Linked DNA regions of Homo sapiens. The protein of the gene in region 4 purifies or fractionates together with the protein of the main gene of each other region. This does not show direct contact. Each region holds a gene or a part of one and is shown on either strand. Other genes may lie near its edges.

Region 1 (7,394 bases), on a different chromosome or scaffold from region 4:
GGAGGCAGTTGTTGCAGTGAGCCAAGATCACGCCACTGCACCCCACCTTGGGTGACATGGTAAGACTCTGTCTCAAAACAAAACAAACAAAAAACAAAAAACAAAAAAGAAATCTTAGGAAGCATTCCTCAGTTGAAAAATAAGATAAACCATTCTGTTCCATCCCTAAAGAAACTGAAAAAAGTCAAGACTGAATTTACTGCTGAAGCTAATGTCAAGATTTTCAGGTTCATCAACTCAGTCTTTGTTTCTTAAACTTCACACTTACAGTGCAGTACTTAAAATGTAAAAATGCACTTGTATTGTTTATATGGTTATTATTGAAATAAAACATCCAGGTCACTTATTTTGGCTTTGTTTAATAAAACAACAGAAACATCTGTCATTTTTTATAATAATTCTGTTGTCCTACTCACTGGGTGGCAAAAATGCACTCCCACTGCCTTGCATTGACCTGCCAATCTGGAGGCGATTCACTCCCCACTGACAGCCAAGTTTCACTGAGTTTTGGTCAAATAGAACAATTAAATCATCCTTTGGTTTTCCAAGCAGCTAAAATAATTTGAGAAAATAAAAACAAGCCATCTTTTAAACAAAAATGCATTACCTCCCAAAATGAAAAATTCATTTATCTCCGAATTGTCACCAGTAAGTTTTAAGGTTATAGCAAGCCACACCATGCAGTTCTTGTATAAGATGAATAAAATATTCCTGACTAATAACTCAATTCTAATTTTAAACAAATGCATTCAAACTGAGTTGAATACTTAGTTTGTATCACTCCCACAGTGTAAAAACCTTGCTTGGTTCTGATGTCGTTGACTGCTGGCCATAGACGATGAGGTCTCAATCTTACTAAGAGATTAAGGTTGGATGACAGTACCTTATCTCTCTGACAATGTATCCAACTCAAAGAGATAGCCTAGCTGGGCATTCAATTTCAGCGTTTTCCACTGTATATTAGGAAATGGGGACCTCGTCTAAGTTTCTGTTTGTTTTACTTTGTTTTTGCCGAGCAGGAATTAGCTGAACCCTGTTGGCAGCTCCTCCAGAAGCCCACGTGGGGTGGACCCAGCGACCACTTCCCATAAGACTACAGGCTCATCTACTGTTCTCTGGAATAAGGTTTCCTGGAGTACAAGTTCCAGTCTGTCCCTTGGTTTTGCCAAAGACAGATCCGCCTACTGACTATTCTCTGCTGTAATGACAACTGTGCTCTAAGACAAACAACTTATTCTTAGTGGAAAACAATTAATTTCAGCCATCACATGTGTTCCTCAACAGCCATTTATTCACACTGGCCCATCTTCCGGTATCAGACTGATACAAAACCCCCAAAGACTTGCCTGATGACAATTGAATGAGTGTCATGTATTTAACGGCATTTGTACTTTATTGCATTGCTTCCTGTTTTTTTTTTTTTTTAAGATGGGGAAATCTTTATAAGCAAAAAGATGATTAATTCTTCCCCCTGTCTTTAACGGCCATTCTCTCCCACAATCTCTAGAGAATCTCCAAATCTAAGTTGCGGGGAGGGATGCTGGGGAGCCACACTTTTAAGCAAAGTGTTCCTGAGGTTTTAGCTTAGACATCTACAAAACTGGAAGATTCCGTTTTATGGGGACATACGGACAGAACTCACTCGTTTTAGAACACTACTTAGCCAAACCTCTCAGCGAATCCTATACGGAATAGTCTTTAGCAGTATACATTTTGGAATCTTCTGTGTGCCCCAGAACACACAATATGGATCCAATTAGATTCAGCTGCCTTATGTTACAAACAAACATTGAAAGGGAGAAAACAGAAGTGGGAGTGGGAGCTTTGTTCATCCTCTCCTACGCCCCCGCGACCCCACACTCCCGAGGCGCGCGCATCCTCCCCACTCACTCGGGCAGCACCCACTCCCTAAATAGCCCAGCGTGGCCGGTGCCCCGCGAGCGCTCGGAGCGCTTTTCCGCTGCGGGCTTTTCACCGGATCTGGAAGGGATTTACCGGAGGGACTGGAGCCCAGCGCAGCAACCCCACCCCACCCCCACCGCCCCGGCCCGGGCGCGCCCCGCCCGCTCCCCGGCTCCAGGACTTACACCAGCGCCGACGGACAGGGCATCTGGTTCCAGGCACAGTTGTACTGAGCCTGAATAAAACTCTCACTTCCCTCCAGCACGGAGCAGCTCACATTCTTGTTCACGATGTAGGCGCACCAGTTCCTGGGGTGCAGGAGAGAGAGGGAGAGGGGCACGGGGTAAACCCGGAGAACAATGAGGCCAGGGGAGAGGGGACTGCGGCACCAGACCGAGCGAGGGTCGGGGGGGCCCGTCGCCCTCTGCGGAGGCGGGAGCTTCACCGAGCAGACGCCGGAGGGTGCCCGGGTGCGCCTCTGGAGAGCGCGCGCCTGGACCCGACCAAGACGGGAAAGAAAAGCACCCATGGTCCCAGGGGCTCATGGAATTCCTGGGAGTCGTTTTCGGATCGCCCGGGTCTGCGGGACGCTCTCTGCGCCCACGCCCCCGGAGTCAGCTCTGCCTGAGGCGCCGGCTGCGGAGCGCGCGGTCCCCCGCAGAGGGAGCCGCCCGGGGAAGTCCAAGGGAGGCCCCCGGCTGCCGCTCGTCGTCTTTGGCAGGGCAGCTCTGGGGCTCAACTGGGGGCCGGGGAGGGGTAGGCGGTTTGGGGCCAGCCAAGGGGCGCGCACTTACTTGTTCCTGGCGCTGGGCCGCGCGGGATACCCGGGCTGCGGGCCGGCGTGGCACAGCCCCGCGCCAACCAGGGCCAGCAGCGCCAGCGCCCAGCGCCAGGGCACGCGGGGCCAGGGCCGTCTGGGCTGCCACATCCCGCGCGCAGCGGGCGCGCCCCGCCTGCCCGGGTCCGGAGCGCGGCGGATCGGGGCACCGGCCACAAGGCTGCCGGCGGCCAGGGCGCCGCCCGCGAAGGCAAGAGGCTCGGGCGCTTCGCGGCGCTCCAACCAGTGCTCCGCGGCCGCCCCCTCCGGCTTCTCGTTCCTACTTCTCCTTCTGCAGCCCCGTGCGCCCTGCGCTTCTCCCCGGTCCCTCAATGACGCACAGGTCCCCCCGGGTGCCGCCCTCTTTATTTCACTTCCCTCTCCGAAACGTGACTCTCCCCCCACCAAGTCTCCCCGTCTCCAGTCCCTTCGCTTCTCGGCAGGGGGCTCGGGGTGGAGGGGCGAAAGGGTTTGGGATAAGGGTCTACGTTACAGCATTTCCAATGACTCATTCCTTTGGTCTCTTCCCAGATGCCGAGCGACTCCGCCTCCCACCTTCCGACAGGCTCGCTCCCGGCCCCCCGGGACGCGGCCGCCGTCGGCGAGTCTGGCCGTCCTCGCGTCGTGCCTGGGTGCCAGCCTCCCGGGGCGAATGAGGGACATGTTTATCAGTCCCGCGGGGAGAGGAGTGGGGGCTCGACTCGAATTTCCTCCTCGGGCAAGACAGGGCCGTTCCCCCACCAGCTCCATGGACCTAGAGAGTCCAGGAGGAAACGAACGCTGGTTCTTTCTTTGCCCAACTCTGCCTTAGGCACCATCTGACAGTTTCCGAGGCCACGCGGGGGGCGGCAGGACAGGACAAGCCACAGCCCCGCCAATTCCCAGAGGCTGCTGCAGCTCAGCGTCCGGCTCTATCACTTACTGCAATTCTCCTCCAATTCTTGAAAGGTGATCTCACAGCCTCTGCTTCTGAGGTCCCACTGTGAACTTTCTTTTTCTATTGAAACTAAGGCATTTACTCACGTTTGCTTCTTAACAGTTCAGGCACTGCTAGACATCCGTCTTAAACTTTCTTGTATGTTTTCTGCCTGTTGTTGAGTTACACTAATCTCTACCGATGTCTTTTTGGGATGAAGTACCAGAATGTTAAGTAAAATCACCACCCAAGTGTTGTATTCTAAGGGGTGTTGGAGAGAGCTGTGTGTTTGAGATGACCTGCTGCATCTAATCAATGTACAGGGTCGTGAGTGGCGTGGTTACCAGACTCCACAGATAAAACTGTGGCCTCTGTGAGCTAACCAGACGCTGTTGGCCATGACTCGTTAAGTGAATAAAGCTTTGCTATGGGCCAGGCGGGGTGGCTCACGCCTGTAATCCCAGCACTTTGGGAGGTCGAGGCGGGTGGATCACCTGACGTCGGGAGTTCAAGACCAGCCTGACCAACATGGAGAAACCCCGTCTCTACTAAAAGTACAAAAAAAAAAAAAAAATTTGCCGGGCACGGTGGCACATGCCTGTAATCCCAGCTACTTGGGAGGCTGAGGCAGGAGAATCGCTTGAACCAGAGAGATGGAGGTTGCAGTGAGCCGGGATCTCACCACTGCACTCCAGCCTGGGCAAAAAGAGTGAAAATCTGTCGCAAAAAATAAAAAATAAAAACGTTTGCTATGTTCCTACTTTACTAAATGAAGCCATTGGTCTATTTTGTTTCTAATATTCTTTGATGGTGTTGTTGGACCTTTTGATTTGCAGATGAAAGAAAGAGAAGTCCCTAAGTAGAAACTACAAGGGCCAAGCAGAACATTATACCATGTAAGGACATCATCTGTCCCTGGACTCTTAAGCGGAAGATCATGCAAATAGTGGACTGAAGTCATCCCAGCCTTCAAAAGAGCCACCGTGGGGGGGAAATAACAGAAAGGGATAAAAAGCTGTCTTTCGTAACCCAATCTGTATCTTTCTGTGTGACTTCCCTATCCTGCCTGTCCTAACACCATCTTGGCCGTAAAGACTCATAGAGTAGAAACAGAGTATAGAAATGAAGAAGAGGAAGAGGGGGGGAAATGGGGGAAACACACAAGTTGTGTGTGTCTACAATTAGCAGAGAACAACTCCAATGTGTGTCTGGTACAGGTAAATCTCAAACTTGAAAGTGCATTGAACTGATCAAGTCAATCTGTTTTTTCCGTCAAATCAAAGTTATAATAGGAAGTTGTCTAAGAGTATAAGGGCCAACTTGTCATTGAGATGACCACAATACTATATTTAATCAGCTATCAATAACATTTATTGGTAAATAAATTTCATTCTGAGCATCTGTTACAAGCTAGGCATTGTGCAAAAATACTGAGGATTCATGAGTGAGCCCAAACTGACACGGGGCTTGTGTTTGGAGAGCTTCCAGGCATTGCCATGCAATGAAGGGTGTTAGCGTTCCTGATGGACAGTCAACTAAGTGAGCTAATGTTTATTGCATGTCTTTCTCTAGACATAAGCCCATGTATGTTATTGTGGGTCTGCCCCTGGAAGACAGAACATTCTTGACTTTCAGAAGGTTACTTCCCTCTTTTGTATTTTTATTTATTTATTTGGGGGAAAGGGTCTCACTCTGTCACCCATGCTGGAGTCCAGTGGCATGATCATGGCTCACTGCAGCCTCGACCTCCCAGGCTCAAGCAATCCTCCTACCTTAGCCTCCTGAGTAGCTGAGACCACAGGTGTGTGCCATTACACTCAGCTAATTTTTTGAATTTTTGGTAGTGATGGGATCTCACCACGTTTCCCAGGCTGGTCTTGAACACTTAATCTCAAGCCATCCTCCTGTCTTGGCTTTTTAAAGTGCTGGGATTTCAGGCATGAGCCACTGTGCCCGGCCTATTATTCCATTCTTTTACTTTTTTGTTTTTTTTTTTTCTCTTGAGATGGAGTCTTGCTCTCTCATCTAGGCTGCAGTACAGTGGTGCAATCATGGTGCACTGCAGCCTCGATATCCCTGGGCTCAAGCAATCCTCCTGCCTCAGTCTCCTGAATAGCTGGGACTACAGGCGCACACCACCATAACAGGCTGATTTTTTGTATACCATCACAGCTCACTATAGCCTCCAACTCCTGGGCTCAAGTGATCCTCCTACTTCAGTCTTCTAAGCAGCTAGGAGTACAGGCACACACCACCATGCCCAGCTAATTTTTTATTTTTTGTAGAGATGGGCGGGGGGGTCTAACTTTGTTGCCCAGGTTGATCTTGAACTCCTGGTTTCAAGCAATCCTCCTGCCTTCGCCTCCTAAAGTCTTGGGATTACAGGCATTAGCCACTGTGCCCAGCCACAAGGTTATTTCTTGATTTGAGGCCAAGATCCCAAGAGACCCTCTTTGTTTTCTCTACTCCAGCTGGAGGAAGGGATGCAACAAACTCAGGAACCAGAGAGCCCTGCATAAGAAACAAGACAGAGGGAAGCTTCCGGAGGATAGAGAGCTTCAGCACACTAAGAAACAGACTAATTGGGCAGGACTTCTGATCCCTGCCATGAACAATAACGTGGATATGACTGCCAGAAAGCTGCAAGTATGAATTTTTTATATGCTGCCAAGTACCTTAAGTGAGCACTTGAAAACTATATTTTATATAACAATCTGAAGGAATTTCTTCTGCTTTAAAAACAAGTGTCCCATAGTAACTTGGGACACACACCCTTGATTGTGTGACCAACTTACCTAAAGCAAAAATTCAAGGAAGAACTACTTCATACAATCCATTCTCTTATTCACTTGTGGGTCATGACGTAAGATGTTCATCAGGCTCTGTACGTGTTTAGGGACAGTTCTCTTGGAAGCAGTGAGCCTCTTGGGCCTCCAGCACACCCAGGTGCCCCCTCCATTGCCTGTTGGAAAAGGAAAGTGACTATCACTGAGGCAGCAGGCAAATACATTTCCCCTAGCCCCACCCCCGTCATCTGCGCAGGGGACATTTGATCAAGATGAACTGATTTGCATCTAGGATGTGGTCAAGAATCATGAGATTAGCCTTGTCTTTCCGCCCTTCTGATCCCTCATCTTCCCTTTTTTTTTTTTTTTTTTTTTTTGATACAGGATCTTGCTCTGTCGCCCAGGCTGAAGGGCAGTGGTGCTACCATGGCTCACTACAGCCTCCACCTCTCAGGCTCAAGCAATCCTCCTGCCTCAGCCTCCTGAATAGCTGGGACTACAGGCACGTGCCACCTCATCTGGCTAATTTTTATCAGTTTTTTTGTAGAGATAGGTGTCTTACTATGTTGTCAGCCTGGTCTCGAACTTGTGGCTCAAGCGACCCTCCCGCCTCAGCTCTTTACTTTCTGGAATTCAAAAGTTCAAAAAAACTGTCCCCTGGATTTCTAGGTGTACTTTTAGGTGTCTTTATTGCTTCCTTTTTCTGCTTATTTAATGATGGAAAAACAAAGTTCTTGAAGACTAGATATCTTGAATAAAAGACACCCTTCTTTCTTTTAAAAACAATGAGTTTAATAGGGAAAGAGAAACATCCCCAAGAAAAATGAACTGGCTGCAGCATCTAGCCTGTTCTGTGTTCTGGAATGCCAGGATATGGGCAATACAATTTTGTTTAGCTCCATTTGAAATAGGCATTATGTTGGAGAGGGACCTTCAGAACAATTTTTTTTTCTTTCTTTTTTTTGAGATAGTG
Region 2 (7,017 bases), on a different chromosome or scaffold from region 4:
CAGCTCCGCGCGCGGCCAGGTTCCCCGCCCCCGGGGGCTCCGCGGGTCCCGCCCTCGACCCAGCCCGGGCGGCGACCGGACCCCGACCCCGGCGCGCCCCGCTCGCTCCGCACTCACCGCCGGATCCGGGGCGCGCACGCGCCGCCGCCACTGCCGCCCGAGCCCGCGCCGTGGGGGCCCCGAGCCCCGCCCCGCCCCGCCCCCGGCCCCGCCCCACCTGGCGGCCCCGCCCCGCCCCCATTGCGCAGACGGGGAAACTGAGGCCCCGCGGCGGACGAGCTGCCCCCGGGCGGGCAGTGACTCTGCTGGAACCCGGGGCTGACGCAAACGCGCCTCTGAGCCGCGGCCCGCCAGCACCCCCTCCGGGAATCCTGGGGCCCGAGTCCCCGCGGCAGGGCGCTCGCTGCGCGGTCGCTGGGGACGCACGACCAAGCCCGGCCGCCAGGAGCCAGGAGAGGCCGCCCAGGGCGCCCACACTGACGGGGCTGCGGGCCCTTTGCTAGCTTTCAAGCCCCCCAGGCTGAAAACCACCCCGGGACGCCCATCTCAGCCGCTGGGGGGCCGCGCGGTAGGCGCCCGGCGCAGGTTAGCACTGAGCTGGGTCCTGCAGCCTCGCAGGCAGTGGGCATCATGACCGTCCCCACCGCAGGCCCAGAGACCCAGATCTCCTCTGAGACCACATGGCAGAGCCCAGGCCTGCCTCCTAGCCTTAGCGTGTTAGGTTGGGGGCCCCTGCGCCGGCCCCCACCTGGCCCTCTCTCAGGCATCAGGCACCCTCACCGGGGTCACTGGGTCACTGCTGAGTTCAGCACAGTCAGGGCCATCGCAGAACACTCCTCCCAGCGAATCCACAGGCCCCCAGAGAGTCTCCTCACACCAGAGGTCCCTGGGCTGGTCACCTCTCTTCTCCAGGCCTCCATTTCCAAATTTATAAGATGGGGCTAAACAGCCCTGGGATCTAGTGACGGTGAGGTCGTGGCCACACAACAATTGTTACAGCTGTTACTGCGGGCGCGGCACGTGGGGCTCGGGCCAGCCCAATTCAGCAGCCCCTCAGACCCCAGCCGGAGCCAGCGCCCTGTGTCATAACCCGCGTGGGCGCCGGTGTGAGAAGTGTTCCCTCGGAGCAAGGGGTTTGCTGGGACTCACCTGGCGGAGGAGAATCAGTCATCCCCCGGACAGGGGCAGGAGCTGCTCCTCCGGGTGGTGGGGGCCACCTGTGCCTCCCCGGTCCTGGGGGCTGCTGGTTGGAGAGGAGTTGTGGGTTAGTGCCTATGCACAGTCCTGGTCACCCTGATGTCTGGGGGCTGGGAAGGGGCCCGGGACCAGCTTTCGGTGCTGCTGTGGGACCTCCGCCTGCACTAGGCCTACAGGCCCCTGTCCTGCACCTACCCCGACCCCATCCTGTCCTGAGCTGATTGTCCTCTCGGATCCGCAGCCCCTGGCCTCAGTAAAATGGGGTTATTGCCTCCAGCCCTGGACTCCCTGGCATGGGGATGGGAGGCTGCTGTGAGTGGAGCTGGAGGTCTCTCCATGTAACCCAGGGTGCTGGGCAAGGGGCCTGCAGATGGGTCCGAGAGGGCCACCAGCTTGGTCCTACCTTGGTGCATGGGAGCTGGAGGAAGGGAGGGGCCCAGGTCCCTGGAGAGGAGTCCCCAAAATGAGGCCGCCCCACCCTGCAATCCAGTGGCCACTGCTCTGGACCAGGGGCCCTGGAAGCCCCTGGCACGTGGTCCAAGGGACGACCAGAGCAGCTGCTGTCAGGGGGCGTTCCTCATCTGACTGGGGAGTCCTAGGCCTCCTGGCGCCCTGAGCCCACGCAGGGCAGCTCTTACCTAGCCCCCAGCAGTGAAGTGTTCAGAGTGGGGCCTAGGGGGCCTCTGGGTGGGAGAGCCACCGCCACCCTCCCTGTCCCCTGCCCCTGGCCTCATCTCTGGATCTGCGGTCACTTAACCCTTTGACCTGCCTCCCCACCTCTCCTGCCTGAGTCTGGAAGAGGCGATGGAGCAGAAAGGGCAGCTCCAGGGCTGCCCCGACTCAGCCCTCGCTGCCCCCATCCTGGCTAGGCACCATTTGGAAAGTGGGGGTTCTCAGACAGGCTTCTTGGTGTGGACGTATGAGACAAAAAGTGGGGCCTTCTAGGACCCACTGTGGTTTTGGGGGCTTTGGGATGGGGCTTCAGCCACTCTGCATGAGGCTGGGGAGAGGGAGAACAAGGGCGTCTCCAGGGTCCAAGGGGGGCCCACAGAGTCACCCATTTGCCCACCGCACCCAGCAAGTCATCCCTAAGCCCGAGCCCCACGTCCCGCACCCTGGATTCACACTGCTCATCCTGGCTACAGATGTGGCTTTGGGGTTCCTCTCCCTCGGGGCCAGTTCCCCTCCCCGGGCCCCCGTTGGGTTGCTCATCCACTGCTAGGGAGAAGATGAGGAGACCTCAGCCCTCGGGACACCGCAGGGCGTAGCGCGAAGCCCCTCACAGCGGGCCCAGCCAAGCTGAACTTTGCTGCCAACCACAGGGGCTGCTCTGCGGAGGGAGAGAAAGGCCAGAGGGTGGGGTTCAGGGGAAGGGCGACTGGGGGTGAAGTGTTGGAGTCAGCAGACTGGATTGGGATCTACGCTGGGCCACCCACTAGCAGGCGTTTGGCCAAGGGGCCTCAGTGGCCTCCTCTGTGCAGAAGGGGAGGAGACTGGGACCCCTCCCCTGTGACCTCGCTGGGGAGCAGATTGCGGAGCAGCCAGCAGGCGCCACGGTCAGCGGGAGTGAGGGGAATGGGGGGCCCGCCCTGTCCGCTCCCTGCCCCTCCGAGGCCACCCCTGCCATACCTGATGCTGCTGGAGCCCAGGCGTGGCCATGGTGGCCGCTGCTGTGTCCTGGGACTGGAGATGGACCCTAGCCCTTGCTGGGGCCTCAGGCCCACTGGCCGCCTGGAGGCACCTCCTGAGGCCCACCTGCCTGGCCTGTCCACAGGAGCCTCCCTTGCAGCCGTGCAGGGCCAGCTTGGTGCAGGGAGGCTCCCCCCGGGCGAGGAAGGGCGGCTTTTTATGCTCCGTCCTGGGTAATCGGGATTGGGATGGGCCCTTCCCAGCCGGACTTCCTGTGTGTGTTCTCCGCTGATAACGGGGACGTGTCGTCGGACAAACAGGAGGCTGAGGGGGGTGGGGGCCACCGTGTGAGGGGGCCTGGACAAACTGCCCAGGGGTGGGGAAGCCGTCCCCTGGGCCATCAGAGTCTAGCCCCAAAACAGCCAGAAACCAGGGCTGGACCCTGCTGGAGACCCTGGGGAGAGTGTGGGGTGGAGGACGCAAGCCCAGGGCCCTCCCAGGACCGTGGGTTCACAGGCCATGCTCACGTGTGGCTGGACAGAAGGGAGCTGCTGCATCTTTGGGCCAAGGATGCTGGGCCCTCCCCCAGGACACCCCCAGATGTGTGTGACACAGCACGGGAGCTTGGAGGGGCCCCAGGCCAAGGCAGGGACCAGCCACACAGGAGCCTTGACCAGTGAGGGATGGCGAGTGGCGAGGCCCGGCAGGAAGGGACTGGGGTGGCAAGACAGGCTGAGCGGTCCGAGAACAGCCTGTTCCGTGGGTCCCTGAGGCCCATGGTGAGGGGGTGACGGGAGGGGACAAGCATGGAGTCCAAGCTCTCTCCCCTAAAAGAGCTGCCAGTGAGGCTGTGAGCCCCTGCCCTGGAGATGGGCAAGCAGGCCCAATGCCCTCAGCCCCACTTCACAGGGGTGCTCTGGGCTGGCAGCAGGCTGCGGCCGGGGGTGTGGGGAGGGATGCGGGACACTGTGGGTGATCACAGGGGGTGCTCTGTCAGATTCCCGGCGTCCCAGCCTCCAGGTCTGACCCTCATCTTCCCTGTTCACACGGCAGTGGGAGCCTCAGGCCGAGCGAGCCACTGTGGCAAAGGTGGGCTGGGTGGGAGGGGACACGGTGCCGAAGGGAGCTGGGTGGCTTTGGAGGGCACGCCTGGAACCCCAGGAGAGCAGGGCCTCTCCCAACCCCGCTGTCCGTGGGGTGTGAGCCCTGCTTTGGGGTCAGCCCCTGTCGGCCTGATGCCTGGGACACCCCCATTTCCCTGGCCCTGGGCGGTCAGTGTGCCCCCACCTCTCCAGCCCCACTCAGCTGGGCAACTTGAGCCAAGGGAGGCTGGGGCAGCTGGGGAAATTCCCCACGGGACTTTGGAGGGCAGGTGGAAACCTCACCCACACGCGATGCGCCTCCCCCTCAAGCAGGAACCAGCTCCCCTCTACCCACGGCCAGGGGAAGGGTCTGCTCTGGGCGCCAGGCTGTGGTCAGGGCTCAGGGCCTCAGCCAGGCAGGACCTCACTCTTCTCCGGGCCTGTTTCTGCACCTGCTTCATGGTCACTGAGCTGGTTTAAGGGGGCGCTCCTGGCACCCAGGCACCGCTGGTCTGAGCGGGAGGGGCCTCTTTCCAGAGGTGGCCCCTGCCCTGAGGTTGGAGCAGATAGGCAGAACCCCATTTCCCCACCTCCTCCACACTAGGCCACCCTGGGATCTGGCCCTTACCCTACTGGCTGCACCCTCAGCCGCCCTGTGCCTCCCTCGGCCCCCTGGCTCTCCCACCCAGGGGCTCATCCTGCCCTGGCCAGCCTGTCCCTCCAGCTGTCAGGAGGGGGTTGCAGTGAAGAACAAGTTGGCAGCAGGCCGGGCCCAGTCCCCCAGGCTGTCACCCAGGAGTCCAGTGCCAGGAGGACAGCCTGGGGAGGACCCAGACTCTGCCCTCGCCCCTGGCTGTAAGCACAGCAGTCAGTTCACCGGGAAGGCCCCCAGCGGGCCAAGCCTTAGCAACTCGTGCACTCGGCTACTTAGCTACTCCACCGTATAGGGGCCCAGTAGGCTTGTGCCCCCATCCCAGGAGGTGCCCTCTTGCCCTCTGCCTGCATCCCTGCGGCCTGCCCCCTCCTCCCCCACCTGCATGCCCCTGGATCTGCCCTGGCCTCCTGGTGGAAGGACCCACAAGCATGGGGTGGGCTAGATCCAGCCCTTTCTGTGTACAGAGGGGGAAACTGAGGCCCAGAGGGAGAAGTGACCGGCCCAGGTGAGCCTGGAGGCCGGACAGGGCTGGGATGCTCGGCACAGGAGGCTGCCTCACCCTTCCTTCCTCTTCTTGGGGAGCCCCATGTCCCCCACCCCAGCTTGTCCTATGTCCCAACCTGGAGCAGCCCCTGTCATCAGACCTATCCGGCCAGGGGACAGCTCGGGGCAGGAATAGCTAAGTAGCCGAGTGCACGAGTTGCTAAGGCTTGGCCCGCTGGGGGCCTTCCCGGTGAACTGACTGCTGTGCTTACAGGCAAGGGGCGAGGGCAGAGTCTGCGTCCTCCCCAGGCTGTCCTCCTGGCACTGGACTCCTGGGTGACAGCCTGGGGGGCTGGGCACCGCCTGCTGCCAACTTGTTCTTCACTGCAACCCCCTCCTGATAAGCTCTGCCCTGCCCCCAGCCCCTCCCCAGGCCAAGACTAGACCCTCCCCAAGGGAAGGAGGCCTGGGCTCAGGCCCAGAGTGCCAGCTTTGCCCTATCCCATAGCCTGGAGCCACCACAGGAGGGGCACTCCACTCTCTTGGGCTCCTGGAGCCTCAGAGGCAGGTACAGGAGGTGGGCTGCGGCCTTGCCCTAATGTCGGGGGCCCAGCGGGGACAGGAGGGGCGGGGGGTTGGCAGGGGACAGACATGGGTTCTTGGACGCCAGAGGGTACTGGGGGTCCAGGGGGTTGGGGCTGCCCCCGGGTTCTGGTATGGGTGGAGCACACTCTGTGCCCAAGGCCCAGGGGCTCAGCAAGGGGCAGGCGGGCCCCTCCCTCACCCTCCGGTCCTTGGAGGTGCCCCCTTCCCTGCCCTGGCCGCTCTGGTGGTGTGTGTTTGGGATCATGGCACAGACCTTCAGCAGGGAATCATTTTGGGAGTCAGCAGTGCCTCCTGCCCAGGCTCCAGCCCCACAGAAGCCAGGCCGGGCCCCACGCCTGGCCTCCTCCCCTCACCTCAGGGGCCCAGCACAGAGGGGGAGACCTGGTGGGAGAGTGTGGCCACCCCAAGGCCTGCGCCTGTCCTCATCTGGGCACTGGAAGGTCTGGAGCCCAGGGCTTCACCCTGCCTGGGGTGGTGTCAGAGGTGGAGGCCCGGCAGGGGCAGGAAGCTGGAGCTCTGGTCCCAGCTTTGTGCCCCACACAGGCCTCAGTTTCCCCATTGTCTCTCTTGTCAGCAGGGCCATGTTGTCCAGTGGCCTTCCAGCCACCTGGGAATGTTCTGAGGTTAGTTATAAGGGGAAGGGCTGCCTTACCTTCCCAGAGCGTGCTGGCTGGGCAGAGAGGCGTGGAGGGGCCTGGCAGAGCCCCCCGGGCCCTCCCGGGCCTCCCGGACCCCTCACCAGGGTGCTTTTGGCCTCTGAAGCCCCAGGAGAGGGCAGACTAAGCCCCTGGCAGAGGCCAGCCTGGGCATCTCAGGTGGCGCGAGACAGAGGGGCACCAGGCGCGGCCGCGGGAGCCGGGCTGCAGGAGGTGCAGGAGGAGGGAGTGAAGCAGAGTGCGGGAGGGATGGGGCTTCCTGTTTACCCCGAGCGCCCCCCGGCCTCGGACGGGCTGGCTCTGTCAGCCACGGATGTGGTGGAACCTTCCCATCAGAGGACGTCCCGGACCCGACGGGGGCTGGAGGGAGCTGCCAGGCAGGGGTGCCTGCGGGCAGAGGAGCCGTCTGCTCCCGAGCGAGGGTTTGGGCAGGGAGAAGTGAGGGTCCCCAGCCTTTCCTCTCACCTCTCCCTGCCTGCTCCGGCCCCTGACCCACGTCCCAGAGCGACACCCTCTGAGTTGAGGGGCTTCCATTTTCAGAGGAGGCAGCTGGCTCACAGGTGGAAGCCGCTTGTTCAAGGGTGGAAAACGGAGGCCCAGGACTGGAGTCCGGGCGCCTGAGCCTCGGGGGTCGCCCGGGGGACCCCTCGCCCTTCCCCTGGCCGCTCCCGTCTCCCTTCCTGGGGCTGCCCACTGCTCCAGCTGATGG
Region 3 (6,418 bases), on a different chromosome or scaffold from region 4:
TTATTAAATTTGTGCATTTAAATTTCCAAACATATGGAAGTTTTCACTTATATTTTTGTTATTATAAGTAATAATTACATTGATTTGTAGTTAAAAAAATGATCTGTATGATTATTTGACATGTTTAAATTATTTGACATGTTTAAAGCCTTTATTAAGTGATCAGTGTGTATATATATATATATATATATATATATATATATATATATATATATATAAAATTAAAATTTTTTTTCTGGAGACAGGATCTCACTCTGTTGCCCAGGCTGGAGTGCAGTGGCACGACCATGACTCACTGCAGCCTCGAACTCCTAGGCTAAAGGGATCCTCCTGCCTCAGCCTCCCAACTAGATGGGATTACAGGCATGCACCACCACATTCAGATACTTTTTAAAATCTTCAAATCTTTTGTAGAGTTAGGGTCTTGCTATGTTGTCCAAGCTGGTTTTAAACTCCTGGCCTCAAGTGATCCTCCCGTCTCTTATAAGCACAAGCCACTGTGCCTGGCCTAATTTTTTTAAAATTAAACATTCTGCATATACTTAAACAGAATGTATTCTGAGGATACAGTGTTCAATATATGTACTCAATTAGATAATGTTTTGTGAAGCATTCAAATCTATATCCTTACCAACTCATTTCCTGTTTGAATAATTATCAGAAAAAGCACGTTAAAATATTACACTATAATATTGAGATTAATTATTTCTTCTGTACTTCTGTCAATGCCGCTTTCAATATTTTGAAGCTTTGTTATTTAGTGTCTTGCTATATCACAACCCCTTTTGACATCAGTACCTAGAACTGGGTTAAAATGTTTGCCTGGATTAGGGTTAGTTTTCAATGAAAAATCCTCAGCTCTGTCAACGATCTTTTCATCACCTGGGAGTTTATATCAACATACAGTTTTGGTATCAAAATCAAAGAAAGCATTAAATAAGCGAAATGTGTGAATAACACAAGTGAGATTTGTGCAAATTCATTTTTTTTAAATGATGGTGAGCGTTGTGCTTGTCCTCTTGTTGGATTCACGAAATAGAGTCACTATCAAAAGAATACATTATGGCTGAACTCGGTGGCTCATGCCTGTAGTCCCAGTACTTCGGGAGGCCAAGGCGGGTGGATCGCTTAAGGTCAGGAGTTCAAGACCAGCCTGGCCAACATGGTGACACCCCATGTCTACTAAAAATACAAAAATCAGCTGGGTGTGGGGGCAGGCACCTGTAATCCCAGCTACTTGGGAGGCTGAGGCAGGAGAATCGCTTGAACCCAGGAGGCAGAGGTTGCAGTGAGCCAAGATTGCACCACTGTACTCTAGCCTGGGCGACAGAGCAAGATTGCGTCTCAAAAAAAAACAAAAAACAAAAAAAAATTACAGAGAGACCTGTCTCTAAAAATTACAAAATGGTTCTCACCTATAAAATATTGACATGTGATAGTTCAAAATTGCTTGCTAGAAATTAAAATTACTAAGAGTTAAACTTAGGCCAGGTGCAGTGGCTCACGCCTGGATTCCCAGCACTTTGGGAGGCAGAGGCAGGTGGATCACTTGGGGTCAGGAGTTCGAGACCAGCCTGCCCAACATGGCAAACCCTGTCTCTACCAAAGAAAAAAATACAAAAATTAGCCGGGTGTGGTGGCACGCACCTGTAGTCCCAGCTACTGGGGAGGCTGAGACAGGAGAATCACTTGAACCCGGGAGGTGGAGGTCGCAGTGAGCCTAGATCATGCCACTGCACTCCAGACTGGGTAACAGAGTAAGACTCTGTTTCAAAAAAAGAGTTAAACTTCTAATTAATATATATAATTCTGTATATAAAGTGCACCAAAAAGATGTGTTTTATGAGAAAAATTATAAGAAAGGCACAAATATGTGTTATTTATTGAGAAAAAGGAATAATTTTAAGGTTATTTCAAATATGGATTTAGGAAGGAAACAGAAACAACATCCAAAGGAACCAGCAAGTATGACAGAGAGAGAGAGACAGAGATGAAGACAGTCATGGGAATGAAGATGCATTTTTGGTAAGAAATATACATATATATATATATTTTTTGAGATGGAGTCTCACTCTGTGGCCCAGGCTGGAGTGCAGTGGTGTGATCTCAGCTCACTGCAACCTCTGCCTCCTGGGTTCAAATGATTCTCCTGCCTCAGCCTCCCCAGTAGCTGGGATTACAGGCGCGTGCCACCATACCCGGCTAATTTTTGTATTTTTAGTAGACACGGGGTTTCGCCATGTTGGCCAGGCTGGTCTTGAACTCCTGACCCCAGGTGATCCACCGGCCTTGGCCTCCCAAAGTGCTGGGATTAGATTGTCCGTGGGCGCGACTGTCCGTGGGCGCTAGGGGCAGGGGTGATAGGAGCAGGTCGCGAGCGGGCGCAGCGTGGGACCGAAGGGGAGAAGGACGCCTGCGGCCCGGCGCGTCCCCGGAGGCACGTCCCCCCCAGGGCTCCGCGGCCCCGGCAACAGCGCGGGGCTACCCCTCTACGGCTCCCGCCCCACTGGGGGACCGCGACGGCCTGCTCCCGGGCTCTTGGCTCCGAGTGGAGAAGAGCGCGGAAGTGCGCACTAGCCCGACACTCGGGAGGGCCGCTGCCTCCCCAGGCGCCTGGGACAGCGGCCCGCAGCCCCCACCCGGCCCCTCGGGCCCCGCGTGCGTTTCAGCGCGCTGAGGATGCAGCACACCCCCGAGGTGCGACCGGGTCCCCGAAGCCCGGCGTCGGCCCAACCCGGAGGAGGCAGCGGCAGTCACGGGCACGCTTCCCCAACCCACCCTCCCACCCACTCTTAGGGTCAGGACACCCGCGTCCGGCCGGGGCAGGGGCGGCTCTGACCACGCGAGAAGCAGGTGCGTCCGCAGTCCCAGCTTGTGCCGGGAAGACCACCGGCCAGAACCCCGGGGGTTGGGGGTAGAGGTCGGCTAGGCTGGGGAGGGGGGCGCCCGAGGCTCCGGGTCCTGCACGGCGAGCGGGGCGGCCTCCAGGTAGGGGTGCGGCTCCGCCCACCAAGAAGAGGGTCTGGCGGGAGGTGTGGTTAGTCCCTGAGCTCCCGGCCACAGCGCGGGCTGCTGGGTGGGGTGGGGGGGGAGCGGGGGCGCCAGCACCCACGTGCGCCTGGGGCGCCTTCTGAGGAGGCCACCGCCTGTGTCGGTGTCGGCGTGGGGGCCTGGCTCCGACGGCTGGGACCATCCCTCCCAGGGCGTCCGGGGCCCAGATTCGCACTTGCCGGGCGCCCCCGGGGGCCACTGGCTGCACGGCGCTCTTTAAGGCCAACAGCCCTGAGTTCACGGGACTGAAATCGGCACAGAGAGGCCGAGGACCTGTGGTCGGGGCTCCGCGCAAGCGGTTCTCCGGTCTCCGAGGACACCGAGAGGCGGAGAGGAGGACCCTGGGTTGGGGGTGGGTAGCCGGGAGGGACCGAGCAGGCTGGTGCCCACCCTGACGCCCGAGGATCGGGGAGAGGCTGGGCCAGGGAAAAGCCGGGCGAGGGCGGATCCCCCGAGCCGATCCCCCAGACCAGCTCTCTCCGGGCGGTGCGACCCCACACTGGACCCCACTCGCCCGCGGTCGGAGGCCAAGCGTTTGCATGCGCAGCTCCCCGCGCCTCGCGAGCATCGAGCAGCTCCCTCAGGATCGCTCCTGACCTGCTGAGCTCCAGCCACAGATTTCCCACTTCCTCAGCTTTTCTCCCGCCGGCCTTGCGCTCTGGAGGTCTCGCCCCGGCGCCGCCTCCTCCAGGCAGTCCTCTAGACTGCATCCGCCATGGGCCTGGACGCTGCTCCCGGGGGCAGCCCCCGGCCAGGGCCAGGCACACCCGATTCCTGGAGCGTCCTAGGTTCCTCTAAACCCGCGGCCAGCGCAGTCTCGGGTTTCCATGACGACGACGTCGGATGGGGAACCCGGGCGGGGTCGGGTCGGAGCGCATGCGCGTTGCGCGCCGGACGCGGAACGTCTGCCGGTGTCCCCGCGCTGCTGGTCCCGGGGTCCCTGAACCGCGGTAAGGGCGGTGGTGCGGGCGTCCGAATGGGCGTTTTCTAGATACGGGGCGCGGACTAGAGGCTCGCTGGGCCCGGAGACCGGCGGACTGGAGTCGGGGAACCGGAGGTGGGGAGGGGGCTCCCGGGCCCGGGGTGGGTGGGTCCAGGGCTCCCAGGCCTGGGGCTTGGACAAGGGTCGTGGGGCCCGCGGGAGGGGACGGGGGCTCACCGGCCCGGGGCGGGCGGGGCGGGCGCCGCTGACCCCTCGCTGGCTTCAGGGCGGCCCCGCTCCCTCTGCTGGCCATGGCCCCCCCGCCCGCGTGCCGGTCCCCGATGTCACCGCCGCCGCCGCCGCTGCTGCTGCTGCTGCTGAGTCTGGCGCTGCTGGGCGCCCGGGCCCGCGCCGAGCCCGCCGGGAGTGCCGTCCCCGCGCAGAGTAGGTGCCGGGGGCCGGGTTCCGGGGAGCGGGGCGGGGCTGGCGACAGGGGCGTGCGGGGCCGGGGCTCTGCGGGGAGGACCGCGCCTCGCCTTTGTTCCCGGGAGCGGGTCCTCCCCTTCGCGGGAGATGGTGGCTTGGGGAGTGGGGACGTGCGCTCTTTGGCACTGGGTGGACGGGCCCAGAGTGCGTGGGGGCCTTGCGGGTGACCCCCCCTGCGCCCCCTCCACCCTGACCCGCGCCCCCCGCAGGCCGCCCATGCGTGGACTGCCACGCCTTCGAGTTCATGCAGCGCGCCCTGCAGGACCTGCGGAAGACAGCCTGCAGCCTGGACGCGCGGGTGAGCGCCCGCGGCGCGACGGTCCTCCCGGGCTTCCCAGGGGGTGGGGAGGGCAGGGAGGATGAGGAAGAGGCCCCCTGCGGGAGTGGAGTGTCCCTCATCCTTCACCCCGATTTAAGATGCCGCACCTTGCCCCCTTCCTCTGGCTCCAGTCATCCAAGGGGCATTCTGGGCACCTGTCTCACCTATGAGACGCCCCTCTCTCCAGCATACTCTATTTCTAGCCCCTCCCCCAGAAGGCTCTCACTGGGCACTTTGTCCTATGACCGCCACTCCTGAGGGCTGTGACAGATCTGGACCCTGGGGAAGGACTGTCAGCCCAATCCAGGATCCCCTAGGTGGGCGGCAAGGCCCCAGGGCAGAGGAGAAACTGAGGCCGGAGGATGTGGCGAAAGTGTCAGGAATGGGGGGTCAGGCTGGGCAGGGTGGTCTGGATCCTGGGTGGATGCACAGGTTGGTTAAGGCCCCTCCAAGCCTGGATGAACAGGGAGCCCCCACGCCATGGGGTGCAGCCAAGGAGTTTTTGTTTGTGCCGGGGCTCAAGCTTCTTCCTGGAAAGGGAGAATTCTAGGAAGGAGAAAGCAGGGAAGACCCTGCCTGGTCCCACCCCCCACCAGCCCTAGTGTCCTTCTTGGGAACACTCCAGAGGGCTCCGACTAAGACCTGGAGCCCTCTCCCCACTCACAGAGCCTGGAACTGAGCTCTTGGGAGGAGCAGCCCCCACCTATCCTTAGGCATGAGGGTGGCAGGGAGTGGGGGACAGTGGACCCCTGCGGGTGGTGTGGGAGCTGGAAGAAGGCAGGTGGGCACGCTGGCATGGCGTGGGCACCAGCAGACCCCAGGCAGGCCCCACCAGTGGGAGCCACTGCAGAGGAAAGAGATGAGTGGGAGGCTCTGGGTGTGGGGGTTAGAGCCAGGGCCTGACCTTGTCTGTCTCAGGAGCCGGTGGAGATAGGGCTGCCTTGGGTGGGTGGAGGCCCAGGGGAATGCCAGTGGGCAGCTGGGCTGCACCCTCACCCCTCTTGTTGCTTTGCAGACGGAGACCCTACTGCTGCAGGCAGAGCGCCGTGCCCTGTGTGCCTGCTGGCCAGCGGGGCACTGAGGACCACGCTGCTCCGTGTGAATAAATGCCCAGTGGCACGCCTGTGTCCTGTCTCTCTGTTCTGGCCACCAGAGCCCCTGCGTCGCCCCCGGCAGTCCTGGGTTGGGCCCCTCTCTGGGCTTGGGTTTCCCCAGCTGTTCCAGCTGGGCGAGCCCTCTTGGCTGCTGTCCCATACCAGTGCCCGTGCGGAGAGGTGGACACACACGTCCGACCTCAGTGACCTGTGCTTCCTCGTACCTGCTCCCCTGCCTGCCTCCCCTTGTTTTGAGGCTGGGGAAGTGTAGAAATCGGCCTGACCCCCCTGAGCCCCCAGAGCAGCTGCCCCAGGGCTGAGCCCCTCCAGGCTCCTGCACCACTGAACTGGTGGACCAGCTGCCTGAGACTGTGGGAGACAGAGGGTCCCGGGGAGAGAGGGCAGGGCCACCCCACACAGCATCATCTCCCCTGCCAGCTCCCACCTGCAGCCCTGAGCCTGGACCCTGGTCACTGGGGAGCTCTGGATGGGAACTTGATGAGGCCGTACTGCCATCCACACACCTGTGCACACAGCACCCAGGTG
Region 4 (7,024 bases):
TGTCTTTTTTTATATTTTATTATTATTTTTTAACTGACAAAAGGTATGCATATTTACGGTCTACAGCATGATATTTTGAAATACGTAGGCACTGTGGTATGGCTAAGAACTAACTAACATATGCATTACCTCACATACTTATATTTAAAAGGGACAACCAAAGTAAATATACTCTACCATGTTTCTGATGTGAAGACATTGGAAACATCTAGAAATTCCACTGATTAGTGTTAGAACTCTGCTCTAGCAATCCTCATTCTCTTCTTCTCCACCCCACTGCTTAACCCACAAAAGTCAACTTCTAGAAGGTTCAAAATATTTAACTTGGCTCCATGTCCTCCGGGAAGCATCCCAGGCCTTCCCCCGGTATTCTCCCCCTCCCTCCCAGGCCATTCTTCTGTACTCCAACACATGCCTAATGTTAGTGCACTTACAGTTCCAGACACTGTAAACCACGTCTCTACCTTGAAAGTGAGCTCCTCTAAAGCAGGGAAGGATCCCTCATCATTATTCCAGGCATCAGTACTCAGTAATCACCTAATGCATATTTCTATTAAAAACTAGTGAGAAATGAAAGCCCTCCAGCCCAGAAGTTCTCAACCTTTTAATTACCAGAGGTGCCTTGTATCATTTCTTTTTAAGTTTGTCTAGAATAGTGTTTTAATAATTTATTTGTATTCCCACTTTATTAAACTCTGAACACATCAAACTACCAATCAGAGCTGTGAGAAAATTAGTGCTACCTAACTAAATTGCTATGAATTCCATGCAAAGGGAAAAAAAAAAAAAAAACTGATGTTTTAGTTAGTGTGTGTATCAACATTTTAATAAAATTGAGTTATTTTCTGAAATAATTTTAAAAACCTAAAACTATCAAACAAATTAGCACAAAGAAAAATGACCGTCCCACACACGTCTAGTGAGAGGGCAATTTAACTGTATGTATCCAGGGCCTTGAAAATGTTCATCTTTGGCCCAGTAATTCTGGCCTGAAGAATTCTATTTTCAGGAAATATAAAATACAAAAATATACAAAAATGTGTTTTCTATACAAAACATGTTATTTAAGCGTGCTTTATAATAGTGAAAAGTGGGAAACAATCTAGATATCAATGACTTGGGACTGGTTAAAAAAAAGTTATGCAACAGCCAAACAATGGGAAACAATGAAGCTCATGAAAATGACATTTATGCAGAAGTTTTTAAAACATAATAATATATTTAAGTGACAATGGCAAGTTAACAGACTAGAATAAAAAATTGCCCACACAATACAACCTCAACTGCACACAAAATGTAATTTTTCTTAAAAAAAGGACACATCCACTAAAATTTCAAGAGTGTTTCTAAGTGGAGCTATTATGGGTGAACTTTCCATCTTGATCTTTATGATTCTCTGTGTTTTCAAAATGTTAAGCCAAAAGCACAGTGCTTTTATAATTTTAAAAAAACGTCAAAAAGTTAAGACACAAACCTGCCGAAGGACTCATTACTTCCATGTCCAAACAACAACTTTCAAGAGATGGCATTCAGAGATCTATGCAGGAACTCTAAATAATAGACTAAAACATCTCACATTTTTTAATACATCCCTAATAGCCTTTTTTTTTTTTTCTTTTTTTTTTTTGAGACAGACTCACTCTGTTGCCCAGGCTGGAGTGCAGTGGCGCGATCTCAGCTCACTGCAACCTCTGCCTCCCGGGTTCAAGCAATTCTCCTGCCTCAGCCTCCAGAATAGCTGGAATTACAGGTGCCCACCACCACACCCAGCTAATTTTTGTATTTTTAGTAGAGACGGGATTTCGCCATGTTGGCCAGGCTGGTCTCAAACTCCTGACCTCAGGTGATCCGACGGCCTCGGCCTCCCAAAGTGCTGGGATTAGAAGCGTGAGCCACTGTGCTTGGCCCCTAATAGTTTTTCAACTTCTTCTGCTGAAGAATGTCAAGAATAAAAACAAATAATCTGTACCTACTAACAACTCTCTCCATCATGGGATCAAACTATAATTCAATATCCAGACACTTGAGCTGCCTATATTGCCAGACATGACTTCCAAAAGTTCTTGAAACAGAAATAAGAAAGTTCTTCTCTTTAGAGCAACTCCAAGTACATCCCCCAGAGCAATGGGTGCAGTGTGCCAACCATAAAAAAAAAAAAAAGGAAGATTACAAAGTTCCTTTTTGAAAAGTTCAACAATTATTTGGGCTGCTGCAACCCACTTTCACTGCTATTCCCACTTTCAGTGTCATAATAGGTGACATGCTGTTCCTGGCAGAATGATAGACCACTGTGCTTTGAAGGCTACTGACATTGGTGTGTTTCTTTTGGTAAATAAATGACCTTGAAAATTATCCATAGCACACATTTCTGACCAGAACTCTCCTTTTCTGTAGAGGACCATATGGACTGATAAAAAGGCTATGGGCTTTGTAGTCAACAGAACTAGTTTTCTGTCTCACCTCTGCCACTCACCAGCCTCATGATTTTCGTAAGCTAATATCCCTAAGCCTCAGCTTCCTGTAAAATAGGGATAATAATAATACCTCCCTAAAGAGTTGCTGTGAGAATTCACTAAGCTAGTAGATTTAAAGCATCCAGCACAGTATATGGAACATACCACATGTTCTAAACGACAGCTTCAGTATTTTAACTGAATTTCATCCGGAAGTTCCTAACAAAGGCCTCTTAATAAGAGGAGAATCTAGCCAAAACCTCAGAAAGCCAAAATACAGAATTTGGCCTTTAACTTGATCATTTAGAATGAGGGGACTAAAGCCTATGGAGCTTTGGAGTTGTAAATTCACAGATCAGCCTCACCCACTTGTTGGACAAGTGACTTAATCCCTGTGAACACACGTTCCTTCCACATAGAATGAAAGAAGAATAGTAATTACAGGTGATGTGAGGATTTAAAAAAAAAAATAGCCCATGTTAAGTGTCTGCCACATTGCAAGTGATTAAAATATTGTGGCTCTTCTTACCATATATTTAATGTTACATCAACTGCCAATGTTTCATTTCATCAATGTCAATCAGTTGAGTCCAGAAAAACAGGGAAAATAAATAAATAAATCTCAAAACACAGACAGCCAGTCTGACCCTCAGTCAGTACTTACGTCGGCAGACCTTACAGCACTGGCCAGCAATGTGCACTGGGAGGGAGTCTGGGGAGCAATTGAGAGGGGGACAGGACATCCTTCGGCATTCCACGGCACCACTCTGAGGAAGGAAGGACATGGAACATAATCTCAGAAGTATCCTTTGATAGCTCCTGTTGTGGAGATCATTGAAATCTCATCCCAGAAACCTCATCAGGGAAACAGAAGCAGTATTCGAATTCCCAGTCCACTCCAGGACCACAGATGAAGTGTTTTCTCCGGCCCGAATGACCTGTACCACCTCAATTACTTTTCTGAAATACATCACTGGTTTCATCCTACCTGCCCATGTGTGCTAACTAGATTATGCAGAAAACAAAAAGTCTATTTTTATAAGAACATAAATAACACATTTGCAGACTCTGTCAATCATTTCTGAGGCTCTAACAATCTGTTTTGTATTTTCCTAGACAAACAATGGCATTCTTCAGATATTTATCAAGTAATTTCAACTGGACAGGGTTTCCATACTAATTTTTGGAGGGGGATGTTGTAATTCACTGAAACAGATGAAGGGATATACAAATAATGGATATCCTCACACTGACAGTGAGTCAGGGAGGAAATGCCTTGCAATTATTTGAAACAGGTGATGGATACACTTTGCAAAAGACAATAAAAACATGTAGAAAATAATTAAACTCCCCTTTTAAAGTTATTCTGGTTGTGAATAAGGATAACCATTAGGTTGTTTGAAAATCAAAGGAGTCCCTTCTTTCCACTATATCCCAACCTTCAAACTCCAAACATTGCCTATTAAATCAAATTAGGGTGTGTTGGCAAGGGAAAGCAGATTTTAATTTCCAAGTATTCATATAAGACATGACACTCTTCCAGCATTGCTTCACAATTGCTCGTATGGCTAGTGGGTGCTAGGTAAAAACCTAACAATTCTCAGAGTTAATATTATTTATTAAAGAACCAGGTTACACTCTAATTATCAAACCTCTCCCCTTAAAACTGTTTTTACTGTATTTATTTACAAAGAGGCTTACTTTGCAAGTGCAGTTCCTGCAATGGTCACCATCTACCCAAGAGTCTTGATCTCGATAGAGCAGTCCACTCACTTGACAAGTCTTCTCACAATGACAGTTTTCCAATTGACTAAGTCTTGTCTCTGCATAATTTAGCTGCAAACAAGAGTTACTGAATGTAATTTCTGTAATTCAATTGCATCATCCTAACAAAGCTAATAGCAACAAGAAAAAAAATCCTTCTGAGAAGAGAAAAAAATGCTCAGAGCAGTTCACTGATTCTTAGCATTATCTGTTTTTTGTTTTTTTTATTTTTTTTACACAAGGTGGAATCACTCTAAATTGAAGAAATATTGGCTGTCATGGTCTAATGAATACCAAATGAGACATTAAACTGTAACTCAGGAACCTCATGGGTGTTCATAAATGTGTGTGCTTTCCATTCAAGCCCACACAAAAACACTCATAATGAATGTGTTCTCAAGGACTCATTATGATGTTTACAGGCGATCTAATCAGGAACTCCGAGGCACTTACATTTATCTCCCACTATCCTCTCTATGTTCTTCACACACTAACTAGAATGTCGTGGTTTACAAACTAGGAAGTCACTGCCTTCTGTCTGATGAAAAATTCTGGAGAGCTGGGGTCAGAAAAAAAGAAAAGTCGTAAGCGGATCCCCCAAACAGAATGCCCCAGGAATTCACTTTTGTGCTTAGAAGAAGGACAGGAAAAGTAACCAAAACCCCAGGTAAGATCAGAATTTTGTAAAATAACCTTTTTTATTTTTCTAGGCCACCCAGTCATTGCCAATAATCACAGAGTCTTAGACTCTCCTGCTGGAAAGGGATTATAAAGCTTGAATATCCTCACAAGAAACCTCAAGTGATTATCTAGCCTTTGTACATCTCCAGTGGAGGAACATGTATTATCTTCCAAGGAAAGCCACTTTTCTCAGTTAGCTCTCTTGTTTGAAACATTTTTCATGGTTTTGGCTGTGAAATCTTTCTTTTTTTCCTGCCATACCTAGGTTTTCATTGTAATCCATCCTGAGCAAACCTAATCTTCAAGCATTTGAGGTTATCCTGTCGTCTTGACCACACTTGGCACCACCAGGTTCCCTTAACAGCTCCTCATGATATGATTCCAAGCCTCTCTTCTGATCACTTTTCATACAGCCTACTCCAGTTTACCTTCAAAAATATGGTGCAAAAAAACCCTAAATACAGCACTTTGATATGATCTGTCTACTGTCACATCCACACGAAAGAGTAACTCAACCTAGTAGTGATATTACTCTTCCTTTCCTTTCCCTTACATAGAGACCACCATGATTGAAAAACAAGTATCGTTTCCTAGAAAATTATCTGAGTTTCTCTTTTCCTTCTCAATCATGTTTATCCTTTCATGTCTTAAGTACTTTCCCCATACAGGAGATCAATTCAACCTTTGATCTAACTAAGATTATTTTGAGCCACTATTTTAGACATAATAGATAAACCTAGGGAATGACTTCCACCATCTTTCTACATTAACTATGGTTCCATTTCATACACCTTCCTCTGACTTACTCATACCAGAACTACTCTCTGGAAATGGAATCCACATGTAATTCTAACCTTTGTTTTTGTCATTTATTTCATCCTCTTCCTCCAAGCTTTTGGAATTTCTCAAGAAAATTTACCCCTTGTCTGCCTTTTGTGGGTGGTAGCAAAGGGTAGAAAAAACAAAAAATAGGATCTTAGACCAACCACCATGCACCATGAGCAGCCCCTAAAGAACTAAGAGTTGACGCTGCCTGAAATATTAGCTTCCTATCACTCCTTCTAATATGCATGATCTTCTAAAAATCCATGTTTCATTTAAAACTCCAGCCTAGGTCAAGTGCAGTGACTCACACCTATAATCCCAGCACTTTGGGAGGCCAAGACGAGCAGATGACCCAAGGTCAGGAGTTTGAGACCAACCCAGCCAACATGGCGAAACCCTGTCTCCACTACAAATACAAAAAAAAAAAAAAAAAAAGCCGGGTGTGGTAGCGGGTACCACCAGCTACTCTGGAGGCTGAGACATGAGAATCTCTTGAACCTGGGAGGCAGAGGTTGCAGCAGGCCAAGATCATGCCAGTGCACTCCAGCCTGGGCAACAGAGCGATACTCCATCTCAATAAATAAATAAATTAATACAACAAAACTCCAGCCTAATCATAGAGTTTATAGAATCTATGATAATTAAGTTATTTGGCAATGCTTTAGGAAACGGATAAAATACACTGCTGAGTTTGGTGATACTCTTGGACACTGAGGGATGATGGCATATGGTTTGGCCACTTGCAGATACCAAAATCTGAAAATCTTCAAGTCCTTTATATAAAATAGTATAGTTTGCATATAACGTATGCACATCCTCCTATACACTTTAAGTCATCTCTAGATAACTTATAATAAGTAATACAATGTCTAAACATCAATTCATTCACATGGATTCAATGCAGTACTCGGTACATGGAAAATTCAAGTTTTACTCTCTGTAACTTTTTGGAATTTTTTTCTGAGTATTGTTGGTCCATGGTTGGTTGAATCCACAGATGTGGAACCTCAATAGAAAGAAAGTAACAACTTATCACTTATCTTTACTTCATTTCCATAGCCCCAGTAGTTCCTACACAAGGCAGTAACAGATATATGACCTTGGATTGAACAACAGAGTTGAACCAGATCTGCATTCCTCCTAAAAGGGTCTCAGAATTGTGTACCTTTGTGAGAGGACCCATACGTGCCTTACTCTGAAAATCTGGAACAATTCTGGTGTCTATATCACTCCAAGAAGGGAACTTCTTAAGGACTAAATGGCCCAAAAGGCAACTCTATATCTATCTGAGCTTTCTTAAA

What was found.
Region 1: the proteins of NELL1 (region 4) and EMILIN2 purify together in Homo sapiens (affinity purification with mass spectrometry; 2 studies listed by BioGRID and IntAct, with this or other methods). This does not show direct contact.
Region 2: the proteins of NELL1 (region 4) and EGFL7 purify together in Homo sapiens (affinity purification with mass spectrometry; 2 studies listed by BioGRID and IntAct, with this or other methods). This does not show direct contact.
Region 3: the proteins of NELL1 (region 4) and NICOL1 purify together in Homo sapiens (affinity purification with mass spectrometry; 2 studies listed by BioGRID and IntAct, with this or other methods). This does not show direct contact.

The regions. Positions count from the first base shown.
Region 1 is NC_000018.10:2,842,625-2,850,018, reverse strand, and holds the start of EMILIN2 (EMILIN-2 precursor), read right to left. Parts: upstream 3,014-7,394; 5' UTR 2,831-3,013; coding exon 2,697-2,830; intron 2,211-2,696; coding exon 2,088-2,210; intron 1-2,087. UniProt on the Homo sapiens protein: May be responsible for anchoring smooth muscle cells to elastic fibers, and may be involved not only in the formation of the elastic fiber, but also in the processes that regulate vessel assembly. Has cell adhesive capacity.
Region 2 is NC_000009.12:136,658,918-136,665,934, reverse strand, and holds the start of EGFL7 (epidermal growth factor-like protein 7 precursor), read right to left. Parts: upstream 3,020-7,017; 5' UTR 2,857-3,019; coding exon of another isoform or gene 2,827-2,856; intron 2,528-2,826; 5' UTR 2,312-2,527; intron 1,247-2,311; exon of another isoform or gene 1,244-1,246; coding exon of another isoform or gene 1,150-1,243; intron 168-1,149; exon of another isoform or gene 118-167; intron 1-117. UniProt on the Homo sapiens protein: Regulates vascular tubulogenesis in vivo. Inhibits platelet-derived growth factor (PDGF)-BB-induced smooth muscle cell migration and promotes endothelial cell adhesion to the extracellular matrix and angiogenesis.
Region 3 is NC_000004.12:2,038,068-2,044,485, forward strand, and holds NICOL1 (NELL2-interacting cell ontogeny regulator 1 precursor), read left to right. Parts: upstream 1-3,927; 5' UTR 3,928-4,001; exon of another isoform or gene 4,002-4,108; intron 4,109-4,259; coding exon of another isoform or gene 4,260-4,284; coding exon 4,285-4,417; intron 4,418-4,668; coding exon 4,669-4,757; intron 4,758-5,793; coding exon 5,794-5,859; 3' UTR 5,860-5,897; downstream 5,898-6,418. UniProt on the Homo sapiens protein: mRNA-binding protein which interacts with a range of target mRNAs including SERPINE1, ACTA2, CCN2 and COL4A1 and may promote extracellular matrix production.
Region 4 is NC_000011.10:20,924,573-20,931,596, reverse strand, and holds part of NELL1 (protein kinase C-binding protein NELL1 isoform 1 precursor), read right to left. Parts: intron 4,885-7,024; exon of another isoform or gene 4,801-4,884; intron 4,290-4,800; coding exon 4,155-4,289; intron 3,221-4,154; coding exon 3,118-3,220; intron 1-3,117. UniProt on the Homo sapiens protein: Plays a role in the control of cell growth and differentiation. Promotes osteoblast cell differentiation and terminal mineralization.